2 separate regions of the Homo sapiens genome follow, and region 2 is linked to region 1. Evidence: fine-mapped expression QTL. Tissue or cell type: lymphoblastoid cells. Region 1 holds a variant in brackets; the other region holds the start of a gene. All regions are shown on one strand. Distances are between the middles of the regions.

What was found. PIP is the estimated chance that this variant, and not a neighbour inherited with it, causes the effect.
Region 2: it holds the start of QSER1, and the variant in region 1 is fine-mapped to the expression of QSER1 in lymphoblastoid cells (GTEx, PIP above 0.99).

The regions. Positions count from the first base shown.
Region 1 is chr11:31,898,822-31,906,930 of GRCh38, forward strand. No RefSeq gene overlaps it. Among named protein-coding and RNA genes, the nearest start is that of PAUPAR, 76 kb to the left of the region's middle. The variant C/T (reference allele first, on the strand shown) is at 4,580.
Region 2 is chr11:32,888,950-32,897,058 of GRCh38, forward strand. It overlaps QSER1 (glutamine and serine rich 1), which reads left to right and starts at 3,862. Exons shown (of 13, transcript NM_001076786.3): 1 at 3,862-4,385. The coding sequence starts at 4,177. RefSeq lists an enhancer at 2,213-2,787 and silencers at 3,535-4,154, 4,235-4,634.

The DNA of each region.
Region 1 (8,109 bases):
TGAATCCCAGAGTCATCCTTGACTGGCCTTATGCACTTGACATCCAAATCAACAAAAAATCCTATCAGTTCTACCTTCAAAATATGTCCAGAATCTGACTTCTTACCCCTTTTATGGCTCTGCTCCCTTCTAACTTGCCTCCCTACTTTCCTTCTCACCAACGCTATTTTCTTTTTTTAATTATACTTTAAGTTCTGAAGTACATGTGCAGAACGTGCAGATTTATTACATAGTTATACGCGTGCCATGGTGGTTTGCTGCACCCATCAACCCCTCACCTACATTAGATATGGTAGGTGTTTCTCTGAATGCTATCCCTCCCCTAGCCCCCCACACCCCCGACAGGCCCCAGTGTGTGATGGTCCCCTCCCTGTGTCCATGTGTTCTCACTGTTCAACTCCCACTTATGAGTGAGAATATGTGGTGTTTGGTTTTCTGTTCTTGTGTTAGTTTGCTGAGAATGATGGTTTCCAGCTTCATCCATGTCCCTGCAAAGGACATGAACTCATCCTTTTTTATGGCTGCATAGTATTCCATGGTGTATATGTGCCACGTTTTCTTTATCCAGCCTATCATTGATGGGCATTTGGGTTGGTTCCAAGTCCTTGATACACCAACCCTATTGTCAACACAGCAGCCGAAGTGAATCTTGGTAAAACATAAGCCAGATCATGTTACTGCCTGACTCAAGACCCTGCAATGGCTCCCTGTTTCTATCAGAGAAAAACCAAAACCCTTACAAAGGCTGCACAATCTGGGGTCCCCAGAACCTCACTGACCTCATTTCTTACCACTCTTCTTTGGCTTATTCTCCTCCAGCCACACTGGGCATCTTCTTACTTTGCAAGGCTGCTTGGGCTTTGGAACTTTCTGCTCCCTCTGCCCGAACCCTTCCTTGCCCATGTATCTGCTAGGCTGATTCTCACATCCTTCAAGTCTTTGCTTACATGTAGGGCAATCATATGTCCCTGTTTGCCCAGGACAGTCCAAGTTCTCACCTGCTGTCCCAGCATAATTATGAATAGCTTCCCTTTGTCCTGTTAAATGTTTTTCAGTTTGGATGATAAATTATATGTTCACTCTACTCAAATGTCATATTTTCAATGACTCCTACCCACTTCACTTAAAGTTTACCCTCCAAACCAACCATTGACATTCCCAATTATCCTTACCCTATGCTATTTTTTCCATTGCAATGATCACCCCGTAACCTGTTATATAATTTGATTATCTGGTGAATTTATCAATTATTGTTCATCTCCGTCACTAGAATGTATACTCCACCAAGGGAGGAATTTTTGTCTATTTTGTTCACTGATAATATCCCTGTCACCTTTCTAGTGCATGGCAGGAGTTCAAAAGGTGTTTGATTAATGCAATCATTTTGGAAGACAAAGAAGTGTAATTCCTTAGATCTTCAAATAGTTTATCAGGAAAGCAAGGCTGAATATGTGAGTGATATCAGACTGACACAAAATCCAGGATGTGTGCTTGCTGTATCGACCTGCTTGAGAAGGATTTGGAAGTCATTTATTAAAATCAGCTTTCTATCTCGATGTGCTGTGTTAGGAGCCTCTTCAGAGCAGAACATGGGGGTGAAGAAGACAATTATACCGGGAATCCAAGACAACTGAAGTAAAACTTCATTCTGAACTTCCCAGAGCTCAGGCAAAAGGGAAAAAATCAGGTTGCATAGCTTCTGTCTCCTCTCCTTGTTGCCTGATTAAAAAAGAAAGGCATTTATTCAAAGAAGACATACAGCTCCAAGTTTTATGTTTCAAGAGGGAATCATCACGTTGGCTCTTTTTAATTGGTGGTATGGATTGCGCATGTTGATTTTTTAAAGTGGGAGTAACCACACACCTTAGTGTGCCCAGGATAGTCACAGTTTATACCTGCTGTCCCAAGGAAATTGTTAATATTCAACATGTCTTGGTTTGGATGATATATTATGAGGTCACACTGTAAGGGACATTGAAGGACATAAGAGATAATTACTTTTGCCTTTACAGAGGGAATGCAGACAGTTTCCTCATATGACCTTTGGAAAGCCCAAGGCTATGAGGATAAGCTATGTTCCCTTGAGAATCAAGACACTCTTTGAGCAGCACACAGTTTCATATTTGCTCAGGATCAACTCAAATTTGGGGAAGTTCCACCATCAAGAAGCTCCTGAAGCTCAAGCTGGCTCTTGATATTTGCTGCCAAGACCCTTGTTTACCAAACACTTCAATTACAGGGTCCCCCTTCTAGGTTCATTTGCTCATTGTGGGCCTTTGCAAGATGCTGGTGAGGTCAGAGTTTTCACTGGACGTGTTTGGGGTGCTGGAGAAGTTTCCTCATAGATTTATGAGTCTCTTTAATGTGGGCTGAACTGTACCTTCCCATCCACCAATAAGATTTTTTTTTAGACAATAATACAATTTAGACCCCCATATGCTATATTTACAAACTATAGATTTCTGATGAAAAATCAATTCCTTCATTCTACCATGTTCAGTTGGATAGTACCTAAAAACAACAAAAAGTCACCTGGGTAAACTCAAGTGATTTTCTAAGACTCTAGTCTAACAATTGTCTTGGTTTACAACACCTTATGCATTTTGACCTGGGAGGGGAAAGACCTGGTTCTTTGTCTTGGCCCTGCTGTTCCTTCACCTCTCTGAGCCTTTATCTCCTCATAAGAAGGAGAGGATATGGACTCTATTTCTATAGTACCTTGTAGTTTGATTGCTATATTTCTCCTGTAGAGCTGTTCATTCAGAACATCTCAGCACTGGTGACAGGAATCTTCAGAACACCTGGTCTTCTGGGCTGTAGACATCAGAAACTCTTCAGAGCTCAACCTGCAGGCCAGCCTCAGGCCTATGAGAAGGCAGAGAGAGTTGGACTACATCCTTGGTCCCTTCTCCTCACCTTATTACTTCTCTTTTTCATAGTTCAGGAGGTGTCTTAGTCCCTTTGGGCAGCTATAAAAAACTACCACAGACTGGGTATCTTATTAACAATGGAAAGTTATTTCTCACCATTCTGGAGGCTGGAAAGTCCAATATCAAGGCATCAGCAGATTCAGTGTCTGGCAAGGGCCTGCTTCCTGGTTCATAGAAAGTCTTCTTCTCACTGAGTCCTCACATGGCAGAAGGGGCAAGGGAGCTCTCCAGCGTCTCTCATGGAAGAACACTAATCCCATTCATGAGGGCTCCATCCTCATGACCTAATCACCTCCTAAAGACCCTACCTCCAAAAACCATCCCACTGGGGATTGGGTTTCAACATACGAATTTTGGAGGGACACAAATATTTGGCCTATAGCAGGAGGGTCCTTCAACAGTGACAAGGTATGTCAGAACTAGGGTCTTGGGTAGCCCCAAACCGCAAGAGTTCTTGTCTTCACTTCTCTTTCCCCATCCATTAGTAAGAATGGATATAGTATATCCATCACAAAAATGAATTACCTATTTGGAGCACTAACCATGTGCCATGCATGGTGCTGAGTATTTTGCCACATTTAATTGTCACAATGACCCCTGAGGCAGAATGATAGTTATTCCCATTTTGTAAGTGAGGTCCTGAGTCTCCGGGAGATGACTTGCCAAAGGCCACGTAGTTAAGATGTAGCAACCTAGCATTCTAACCCAGACCTGTGTGTCTCTGAAGTGTACATGTGTAAAGCAATGTAAGCTGCTGAATTACATCTGCTGTCTTCAAAATGGCAGCCATTAATCTGATCCATTAAGCATGGGCCAATAGGAGAAACCATTACTCTGCCATTGCCTCTAATCTAACATGACCAGTGAGGTAATTTCAGGTTAGCTTGAAGTGGGGAGAAAGAGGAGATGTCCTTCAGAGCTGTACTGCTCAGAGGGCTCTAAGGTCACACCAACTGAAGCCAGAGGCACTAGGCCTGTGAGGAAGAAGGATCCAACTCCTTCGTCCCTTAGAGTGGGCCAGGGCTGAACTGTGAAGGCGGGTCTGACACCCTCTCTTCTCACGTCAGCTTCCAGGTTACCTCCAATTTGAAAGCCACTGAAGTGGATGCAAAAGGCAACAGAGCCTGAGGCCTTGGCATCTCTGCCCATCCTGCAAAGGTCAGCACAGTCTTATCTAGAACACAGCTGAGGAGGCAATTTCCTTGAATACTCGGGGCTGGGAGACACTTTCTCCCTCTTCCCCCTTTTGTGTTTCTCCTGCATTTCCACAAGGCTCCAGGACCCTGTGCTGGTGAAGTCTTTGAAGAAAGAGGGGGACACGGCTTGGGGGAACCAGCAGGGGAAGAGGGCAGGAGGAGGGAGGGCTATGTCTGGTCTGGTCTGGTCTGGTCTCCCTTTCCACTCCCACATCACACGCCTTCACCTGGAAGCTTCCTAACCTGAAGTACAAATGAGACCCCCTGGGATCCCAAAATAGCTCCCCTCACAGCTGCACAGCATCCATTTATAGCTGTGCCTCCCTACAGCCCCAGGCTGCCTCTGAGACGCACTTCTGAGGTCAGCGCCTGTGAACACCAGGCTCAATGTCGTTGGAGAACAGAAGTGCTCATAAGGAACCTATTATGGTCTTGTGACTGTTTTTCAGGACT[C/T]GCCCCAACCCTCAGAGACTTTAAAGGGCCAAATTTGTTTTGACCTACAGCCAGACCACTTTTTGTCCAACAATAACCCAGAAGCGGGTCAGATTCCATCCCCTGTGCCCAGCAGCAGGTGAGGACGTTGCACTTGGTGGCAGCAGGACAAACAGTACTGAAGTTATGCCTGGGCCTCAGGCCAAGTAGCTCGGACACCTCCAGGGAAGATCGACCATCGGGCTTTATGTATGTACGTGTTCTTTTATTAGCAATAAAACTTGGGCTATTAATTGACTTTCTTCACTCATGTTATTCATATTGATTCTGAATGCCAAATTATAAAGCAAAGAGAAAGAGCCCTAACCCCACCAAGCTGTGTTCCGTACTTCCTCTTCATACTCCATCTAAAACAAATTAGCTTTGACCCACTATCTCTCACATGGCTTATTTAGAGACGGCCCAAAATAGTCCATGAACTAAGTATACTTTGCTTTTTCACTGTCAATCCTAAGTAGAGCCACGAGGGCAGGAGTGACCCTGGCTGGCCTCTCGAGTTGTAGTGAGCCTCCTACTTTCTGCAACAGCCATCAGCACTTGTCTTCATGAAATATTTTTTGTTGAAGTGAACTCAGGCCTCATCTGGAGCTTGTCCTGGGCAATTCTCTGAAGTCAGGGTCTTTCTTTCTAAAGTTGCTGAGCAAGAGCAAGTCTTGGTGGACCTACCATATCAGAGTGGAGGCCTGACATGAGCTAACAAAAACTTAGGCCATTGATTACACACAGTTGCAAGCTAAGGCATCAGAGGCCCTCCAACAGGGGGCCAAGAACTTATGTCCTGCGGCCACACAGCTTGCATTTCTGCTACATTTCCATTAAATGCTAGGTGTGTGGCTCTCAAATAAGCTACTTCTATTCCTGCATGCCTGTGCTCCTGTCTGTGGAGGAGGTATGGTGACAGTTTGTTGACATGAGATCTTCCCGTATGGCATATGATACATATAAATCACTTGGATTAACCATCATTACTATTTTGAAAGGGAAACAAACCATATCACATATGATCTTTGTTGTATCTTATTTTTGAGCCAATGCTTTAAAAAAAAATAAACATATGCTACCAGTTTTCGTAAGGTAAACGATAATACGGCCTTCTCTCCTTCTTATTATACTGAGTCTCATTCATCTCTCAGAATCCTTTTCATTATCATTGTCACTAAAAGCATTCGGGGTTGGATCAGTGAATATTGCCTAAAAAAAAAAAAGAAGAAGAAAAATCAAAAGCCAACTAATTCAGATACATATAAAACAAAACTTTCTTTTTCTGTAAGCAAACTTAAACATTTTTTTGGTACTTTGAGCTCTCACCCTTGGTAAACAGAAGAATCATAGTCATAGCCAATCTAGGGCCTTTCCTTTCAAAGCAGGAATTGGGCTTTTATTCTGGGGTGGGGAGTGGAGGAGGGGAAATCGGTTTGGAAATTGGGACCTCTGGTCTTCAGCCACCATCCTGCAGCCTCTCTTGCATCCACTCTGAAGTTTCTGTTTCCTCTGGGATTTGAATGTTTGTCCATGGGGGTCACTTTTGCACTTCAAGGCTCTCCTGGTTTGGCTTTTTCTCGGTGTCTTTCATGCCACACAGGCAGCAGGAGCCTTGGGGAGCTGTTTGAGGAGGTTCTGTATTATCTCTGTGCCAATCTTGGGCTTTCCTCCAACCCCACGACATTCTGCGACCTGTGGGAATTCTACAAGAAGGCAGTCTCGGACCTGCTTGTCTAGACATGACCTGCAGCTACCCCAGCCGCTACCATACCTGCACATGATTTGGTGCAAGGAAACACTGAAGCATGGAATTTTCCTGGGCTCTACTCAGGAACAGGCACAGTCCCTCCCTTGTCACATGCCTTAACGTTGGATCAAGGCACAGTGCACTTCTTTGGGTACCGGTTGGCATCTACTCTCACTATTTCTTCTTCTGTTATTCTTTCTCCCCTAGCTTATGACATCTTTCACCTAGGGACAAGAAAAACTGATCATGGGTATTTCTTGTTTTCTTCGAAATAGACTTTAATTTTTGGAAAAGTTTTAGGTTTATAGCCAAATTGAACAGAAAGTACAGGGATGTTCCATATCTCCCCTGCCCTCACACATGCATAGCCTCTGCCACTATCAACGTCCTGCACCAGAGTGCTACGTTTGTTACAACTGATGACCCTGCACTGATGTGTCATTATCACCCAAAGTCTACAGATCACATTATGGTTCACCCTCGGTATTGTACATTCTATGGGTTTTGACAAATGCATAATTACATGCATCCATCATTATAGTATCATACGGAATAGTTTTACTGGCCTAAGAATCCTCTGTGCTCTGCCTACTCATTCTTCCTCCTTGCCAACCCTTGATTCTTTCACTATTTCCATAGTTTTGCCTTTTCCAGAATGTCATATAATTGGAATCATACAGGACGTGGCTGTTTCAGATTTGCTTCTTTTACTTAGTAATATGCATTTAAGTTTTCTCCATGTCTTTTCATGGCTTGATAGCTCATTTCTTGTTAGTGCTGAATAATATTCCATTGTCTGGATGTACCAGTTTATTTATCCATTCACCCACTGAAGGACATCTTGATTGCTTTCAAGTGCTGAGAATTTATGAATAAAACTTCTATAATTTTCTGTGCATGGTGGCTCACGCCTGTAATCCCAGCAATTTGGGAGGCCAAGGTGAGCATATCACCTGAGGTCAGGAGTTCGAGGCCAGCCTGGCCAACATGGTGAAACCCTGTCTCTACTAAAAATACAAAACTTAGCCAGGGGTGGTGGTGTGCACCTATGGTCCCAGCTACTCGGGAGGCTGAGGCAGGAGAATCACTTGAACCCGGGAGGCGGAGGTTGCAGTGAGCTGAGATCGTGCCATTGCACTCCAGCCTGGGCAATAGAGCAAGACTCTGTCTCAAAAAACAAACCAACAAACTTCTATAATCATCCATGTGCAGACTTTTGTCTTCAACTTTTGGGGGTAAGTAGCAAGGAGCAAGTATCTTAGTTCATTTCATGTTGCTATAACCGATTACCACAGGCTGGGTAATTTATAATAAGTAGACATTTCTTTGGGTCATGGTTCTGGAGGCTGGGAAGTCCAAGGCCATCTACTGGGCGTCAGATGAAGGCTTTCTAGCTGCATCACCCCATGGTGGAAGGCAAGAGGGCAAGGGAGAGACAGAAAGAGAAGGGAGAGGGGGAAGGTTGCTGAACTTAACCTTTTATCAGGAAACTACTCCCATGATAACAGCATTAATGCCTTCATGATGGTCACCTTCTCTCTTTGTCCTCACATGGCCTTCCTCCCTTCCCCTCTGTCTCTCTCTGTCTTTCTCTCTCCTTCCTTCATTCCTTCCACCACTGCAAACCATCACCCCTGGCTAATTTTTGCATTTTCAGTAGAGACAGGGCTTCACCATGTTGGCCAGGCAGGTCTCAAATTCCTGACCTCAGGTGATTTTTTCTCTTTCTTTCTTCCTTCTTTTCTTTTCTTTTCTTTCTTTC
Region 2 (8,109 bases), 990 kb after region 1:
CACAAACTTGACCTTCTTGGATCTTTCTTCTTGATGGTTGGTCTATTTATAACATAGGAATGTGTGGACTTACTGACTACATTTCTAGTTAGGCAACCCCAAATTCTGCATTTCCCAACAAGCTAATGAACAAGGCCACCTCAGTGAAGATGGGGTTTCCTGGGTCTCACCCCAACTGATTCCCTCCATCATCTTAAAGCAAGTCACTCAATACCAGGCCTCAGCTTCCTCAACTACAAAAGGAAGGCAATGAACTATGTACTCAATAGAACTACAATCTTTCTACCAGTTGAAATACTTATTTTCTTTTTTTTTTTTTTTTGAGAGGCAAAATCAATTACTTCCTTTTCAATTGTCCTCTGGTGCTTTATTCCAATTTCTATTATATTTAACACTATCCTATTGCATTACAATTAGTTGTGTGTCTGCCTCTTTTCCTCATAAATTACAGGTTCCATAAAGACAGGCGTTGTATTAAATTTACCCTCGTATTCACAGCATTTAGTATTATGCTTGGCACTGTATTAGGCTCTAAATACATATCTATTGAATGAATAAATATGTAAGCTACTTTAAAAATGCCCATTCAGGCTGGATGCGGTGGCTCATGCCTGTAATCCCAGCACTTTGGGAGGCTGAGGTGGGCATATCACGAGGTCAGGAGATCGAGACCATCCTGGCTAACACGACGAAACCTCGTCTCTACTAAAAATACAAAAAATTAGCTGGGCGTGGTGGCGGGCACCTGTAGTCCCAGCTACTCGGGAGGCTTAGGCAGGAGAATGGCGTAAAACCCAGGAGGCAGAGCTTGCAGTGAGCCGAAATCGCGCCACTGCACTCCAGCCTGGGCGACAGAGCAAGACGCTATCTAAGAAAAAAAAATGCCCATTCAGAAGTTCCAATTAGTCATTTACATATTCCTTTCCTTTCCCCCCCAAAAAAGAAAAACCAAAACACTCTATCTCAATTCTAAAATCGGGGCAAGATTTGAAAATTGATTAAATCAAAGGCAGTTTGGTTTTAAGATGAATTGGAGTAAATCCTACACTTAAGAAGGAATCTTCCAGCACTTTGGAAGGCTGAGGTGGGAGGATTGCTTGAGGCCAGGAGCTCAAGACCAGCCTTGGACACCATAGCGAGACCCTGTCTGAAAAAAAACAAAAAAAACTCTTTCCTTCTTCCTCACCTCCATCTCCCACTTCCTTCTGAGTTTATTGTCTAGAGTTAGTCATGCCTTAGAACATGCCCATGAACAATCTCCCCACATTTTCCACCCTAACTCCCATCCCATTAGAAAATCAATACGTATTTCACAGGTCGCGGTGGCTCACGCCTGTAATCCCAGAACTTTGGGAGGCTGAGGCAGGCGGATCATCTGAGGTCAAGAGTTCGAGACTAGCCTGGCCAAAATGGTGAAACCCGTCTCTACTAAAAATACAAAAAAATTAGCTGGGCGTGGTGGCATGCGCCTGTATTCCCAGCTACTCAGGAGGCTGAGGCAGGAGAATCGCTTGAATCCGGGAGGCGGAGGTTGCAGTGAGACGAGATCACCCCACTGCACTCAAGCCTGGGCGACAGAGCGAGACTGTCTGAAAAAACGAACAAACAAAAACACGGGACCAACAATGCTCATTCTAGAGTTTGACATTACCTAGATCAGACTTGAAGCAGCTTGGTTACGAATCATTTGAGAGATCCCGAAACGTTCACAGAGCTGGAAGTATATTTTCAGTAGGGAAGAAGACATTCTTCAGATAGTATCATCAAGTGTACAAAATTTTTAAAAGATTTATTTACATATATCAAAGCATCACATTGTACCCCATAAATGTATGCAATTATGATTTGTCAATTAAAAATAGTATTGATAAAAAATGTAATGATGTTATTTGTAGACATGTAACATTTGAAAATAAATATAATTGTACTGATTTAGAGTGAACTAAGGAAATTTCATTTAAATGGCAAAGGAACATATGGTGACAGAGTAATATTACTAAAAATACTCACTAGAATTTTCCCTTAATATCTTTCCCTGATTTATGTGACATAAACAAACTACATAATGGTGTGAGGGACTATAAAGGTTTTATTGCCACTTGTTTGGTATTGCCTGCGTAACTCACTCTGAGTGCCAGTTGTGGGTATCTCAAACTAAGTGTCATAAAACATTTATAGCATGCCACTCCATTTCCTATACTTTTCATAGAGACAAAACTTTAGCGCTCACAAAAGTACTTATAAATATAATAGCTAGTTGTGAAAACTTTTTAATTTAGATCCCACATTTCCAGTTTGCAGGAAGAAAAATAAATGTAATGAAGATTTACGTTACTTCTCTGCATGAACTCAGATTAGTTCGCAAATTCCTTTTCAAAGAAAAACCACTTTTCAAAGATATCCTCAGTAAATGCATTTTGTAATTAACATAAAATTGGCAAAGTCGCTGTGCCTACACGTTTGAATTCATGTGTAAATAACGACTACTCACTTCCTTGCTTCCCCACCCGGGGACCAGGCTCCAAGCATCACAGGTGCAGAAAGACTTGCAAAAAGGAATGAATAGGAACAAAAGGATGTAGGCGCCAGGAGGAAAACAGGATCTTCCAGAACAAAATTAATCTCGCAAGGCATAGCAGATCCAACACCAGATTATTACCAAAGTTTAAACTTTTTCAATGGTCATCAGAGATAGCGTATCAAGTTTATTAGGTCTTTCACTACGGCTGATTTGCTTAAACCTTTATGTTATGCTTATCTTGAGGGATAGATTTCTGTGCTAAGCACATAATAGGTGTTAAACCAATATTGATTTTTAAAAGGAGGTGGTCATTAAATAGAAATTTTACTGTTATTTTAACCTTTAAATTTATGGCCCAAGGGCCAAACGATGATTTGTACGATTCCCTAGTTTCAATACTTGTGAGTTATTACAAGAAATACAACTCTGCTATGCAACAGAAGAACCGCAAATAGTCATTAAATTACCGCACACCAAGCAGCTTGGAGATCAGATAGGAAATGTTTGGGGAGAGAGTCCTGCTGAAGTTCCAAGTCTCAAACAAAACCCCTCAACATCAGAGTGCATGGTGAGTTTAAATTTATTGTAATTAAAGTCATCCAGATGGTAGTTGGATTAATCAATGAAGAGGTGGTTATCTATCTTGGGATAGAAGATTCTGAAACCCAGAGCGAGAAAAATCCCCAAGGTGGGGGTGGGGACAGTTAATAAGAGCCCTTGGGAAAGGCCCTTTCAGCGAGGATTGGAAAATAATACGTTTGAATTTGAATCTCTTTGAATATAAATCTCCCCTAACAGCAGGAAAAGGGTCCTCTAGCCCAGCAAGCTTTGGGGAGGGAGTAAGCGGAACTGCAAAAGAGCTCGCTCAGCTGTTTCTGGATTGGGGCGCAGAGAAAGAAATCGCGATCAGGGAACTGAGTACTGGAGTCCCTCAAAATAACCCGAAGGGTCAAATAGTGAGCTCCAAGCAAAGCGTTGACCCGGCTACCCCTGAGCAGCGCCCTACGCTGGGTTCCACTCCACTTCCCCTCCCCCGCGCGGGGCGATAGCCAGGCGCGGTCCCTTCCCACGCGGGCCGCGGCGAGTGCGGACAGCTCCCTTCCGGGCTGCGGAAGGCGGGAAGTCTGCGGTTCGCGGGCTCCGGCTGGCGGGCGCCCCTCGGAGTCCCTGAAGTCGGCCGGGCCCCGCAGGACCCGCGCCTTCTCGGCCCCAACTGTCCCTCGCGAAGCGTCCTGCGGTGGCGGAGGCCTCGCGGCCGCCCGCCAGCCCCGCGAGCGGCAAGCGCGGGGCTCAGAGGGGAGGCGGGGCAAGGCCGCGGGGCGGAGGGGGGCGGGAGGTGCATCCTGGGAAATCCACCAACATGGGGCGCAGCGGCCGCCGCCGCCGCCGCCGTCGCCGCGAGTCCCGGCCGCGGGTGCCTCCGCTTCCCTGACGCCCAGCTGGGGCCTCGCCGCCCGCCGCGGCCCGGGTCTTTGCGGCCCAGACTCGCCAGCGCGCCCTTCTCCCGCCTGCTCGCCGGGGCCATGTGAGGGGGCAGCTCCCTCCACCGCCGCCGCCCCCTCTTCCTCCCCCGCCCCCTCTCCCTGCCCGCCCCCGTCACACGGAGCCCTGGAGGATCCCCCGCTGCTGCCCGCCCTCCCTACGCCACCCCCACGATGGACAGGAACTACGCGACCTCGGGCTTCACCGAGCCGCCGCCGCCGCCGCCGCCCGCGCCCCCCGCCGCCCCCGTCCCCGCCAGCGCCGCTGCGCAGCCCCCCGCCCCAGCCTGGGCGTACGAACCCCGAGCCGCCGCCGCCGCCGCCAGCAGCAGCTGCAGCAGTGGCAGCTGCAGTAGCGGCAGCAGCCCCAGCCTCAAGGCCAGGTAGGGAGGGTGGGCGGCGGGGTCGCGGTGGACCAGGAAAGGCCGGGGATGCGTTTGGGGCCTTCGCTCGGTTGCAGCGCCGCCCAGAGGTCTGGGCCGGGCGGGGAGCCCTCCGCTCGCCCTCGGCCAGCTCGGGGGAGGCGGCTGATGACTCCTACGGGGTGGTCGCGGGTAGGTGGGGGCGCCCGGTGCAGGATTCGCGCCTGGGGACGGCGGGTGAAGGAATAGCTGGGCGGGAGTCGTGGGGCTCCGTCACCTCTTGGGTCCTGGGCTCTCACATGGTGAAGTTTGGGCTCGTGGCTGAACTCGGGATCTGTGAGACCCAGGATTGGCGCCGGGGGTCCGAAGGGGGCGCCGGAGAGTTTGGGGCAGTGGCGATCCATTGTATTGGAACCTGGGTGGCCGACAATGCGGTCTTGGGGACTCCGGCGTGTGAGGGTTGCGGAGGCGGGAGAGGAAGAGTCGCGGAACCGCGTCCCGGAGACACTGGGGGGCCCGGGAGGGCTGGGCTACGGGAGAATCCCCGGGGCGCAGGGCAGAAGAGGGGGCCCGGCAGGGCGCGAACGCGGCTCCAGGGCCGGGTGACATATGTTTGCGCTGGTGGCCAAGATTTAGGCGATTTTTCTTCCACGCGTTCAAAGTTGCTCTTAGGTTTCCTCCCCTTTTAACAACAGCAGGAAGTAAGGAATCTTTCTTTGCCTTCTATGCCTCGGGGTGACTGAGAGTTGGGAAGAAATGGGGCGGGGGTTGGGGTGGGGGTAGTGAAGGCCGTAAAGGTTGAAGAACCAAAGCATGCTTCTCCATCTCGGCCTTTAAGGTCCGGGTGCATTATGTAGCGTGGGGTTCAAGAGTTCATCTTGCATGACCAAGGGAATCTAAAATTTTGACTCCTACTTGATATTTAAGCTCGCGGGAAATGTGTAGTAGTGCCACACTGTGAAACGGTCCCATTTGAATGATAACTGGAAGGCGTGGTCTGGTTTGGAGAATTGGTGAGCGGGGTGTTTTAAAGCCACCTCTCCCGAACAATACAGAATCTGGTAGGTGCAGCTTCTGATTACATGGACCAGGGAATCCTGGGTTGCTAATGACTTCATCCTCAGCTACCAACAGGAAGCTTCGTGGCTTTATGATCTCATCAGATTTCTTCATTATTTTTCACGACAGAAGTGAACTTTTGTTTTAAGTTTATACATTACCGTGTTCCAGGTTATCTTCTTTGTTTTTACGAAAGTTCTACGTTCATGATTGAGCAAATAAGTGTGAAGGGTAGCTGGTCTTTGTCTTAGATTGTCCATTGGGACGATTGTGAAAGAATGAGAAAAATTTGCTTCAAGAATAGGAATATAAGCTTTCTCAGAAAATTTTAGGCCCTTTGTTTTCAAGACTTGGGAGTTAACAAAAATAATGTGATGTGCCAATTTGGAGCTAAGTAATTAAATGCTGAAACCTTTCAGAAATAGCCATAATTTTGTATTACATACAAGTAAGCCATTTTAAGGAGTTTCATGAAAGACGTTTGGCACTTCACCCATTATTTCTTGCTGATGGTAATTTGACTATCTTTTTCAAGTAGCTTTTTGCATTGACTAGGATAATTTACAAATGAAAATTACTTTCTCATCATTGAACAGCATGATAGGTATTTGTGCCGCATTTTTTATCTTTTAAATGAAAAATATTTATTAGGTAAATGGAACTGAAATACTACCTAGTTACTTCTTTTAGTAGAATACTTCTGAGGCAAGAAACTAAAATCTACTTGTCATATTTTCCAAATGTTATTTATCAGAGTAACACGAAATGACTTCCCAAACACACTTGAAAACAGTAAGTAGATTCACTTGGCACACATAATCTAAAGGAGATTTATTTTCTGTTTACTAGAAGTTATTGAATCTTAAATATTACCCCTCATGCCCTCTCCCCCTGCTTTTTTAAAAAATAAGCGGTGGGGGGAATCAGCTAAAATACAGCATAGAAAATGCAGGTTTACCCCCCTCCCCCGCCAGCCTGCTTTGTTAACATCTTGTATTGGGATCAGGCCATCTGTACAGAGTTACACTTCTGAATTATACCTCATTTTATTCCTCAAACTGTGCAAATATTCCCTTTGATTTCAGTTATATCAAAAATGGCAAATCTGAAATATGCCTTGTAAGTCTAAATATTCTACACTTCAGAAGCTTATTTATATTTTTATACCATTTTAAAAAGCTTTTTCATAATGCACATATCAGTTGAATGTTTTTGTTCCCCTTTGTGGCAGTTTCTTGTGAAGGTGCAAATGAGTACTAGTTGTGATGATGTAATATGGATACTTATCCATAAAGAATTAGCCTGTCTGTCACCTTGTTTCCTGTAACCTATTCAGAAGCTGACAGATGGTAATGACATTCAGTTGTTGCCGACAGGGATCTAACATCCTACTTTATGCCTTCTTGGTCTTGAAATACATCATTTTCATCAGTTGATGGGAAGGTACATGATAAACAGCTTTTCATGAGTTTGAAACAATACTTTTTTGAATACAACAGCTCTGTTAGTTATTAGGTAGTTTTATTGTACTAACAGTGGAAAAATAGAGTGGGAAACTCCAGCATTATACCTTAAATGGGGCTTATAGAAAGATTTTTGAATATTTCTCAGAGTACTTGCTAGGTACTTGGAAAGTACAGGGATAAGGACTGGCCATATAAATCTTCATTTATTTATGCTAATTTCAGTTCGTTTTAGGAACTAAATGAATGAACATGTCCTTTGCTGAACACCACGCAGTTGGAAATACCTTTTGGGGTGCAGTTTTGGATGTTGTAAATACCTTTGCATAGCTTGGGAAATAAGAAGGTCATCAAGAGTCTGCAGATCCATTGCCGCATTCTGTACTTGATACTTATATCTTGGTCACAACAGGAAGAGGCAGGCTGTTTTATGGTGATAATCGATGTGTTCGTATTTGAATATGCACCAGAAAGTAAGGGAATGGAAATATTTTGTATTTAAATAGGTTTATTTATTTTATTTTATTTTATTTTTTGCGATGGAGTTTCGCTCTTGTTGCCCAGGCTGGAGTGCAACGGCGTGATCTCAGCTCTCTGCACCCTCTGCCTCACGGGTTCAAGCAGTTCTCCTGCCTCAGCCTCCTGAGTAGCTAACCACACCTGGCTAATTTTTGTATTTTTAGTAGAGATGGGGCTTCACCGCATTGGCCAGGCTGGTAATTTTTGTATTTTTAGTAGAGATGGGGTTTCACTACATTGGCCAGGCTGGTCTTGAACTCCTGACCTCAGGTGATCCGCCCATTTTGGCCTCCCAAAGTGCTGGGATTACAGGTGTGAGCCACCGTGCCTGGCCTGTTTTTTGCCTTTCTAACTTGAAATAACTTTTGGCACCAGTTTTTAGAATTCCTAATGCATACTTTTTTTTAGTATGAGGTATAATGAGTATGATAAATACTCCTCTGAAAAACCAAAGTAATGATTAGCTCTTCTAAAACCTGTCAGTTTCTATATGATGGACATTTGTTTGATACATTTCAAATCTAGAGTTTTCCTCAAGGTTTTTGGGAAAAGGCCTTATAGATCATAATTTGTAAGGCGTAAGAACAATCTCAAGTTAATGAAAGGTTATTTCAGACAAACTTCCACTGTTAGAGTTCAGAAAGTTTTTTCCCATGGAAACCGTGTTGTAAGTAATAGTAGCTGTCATTTACATCACTAGCAAC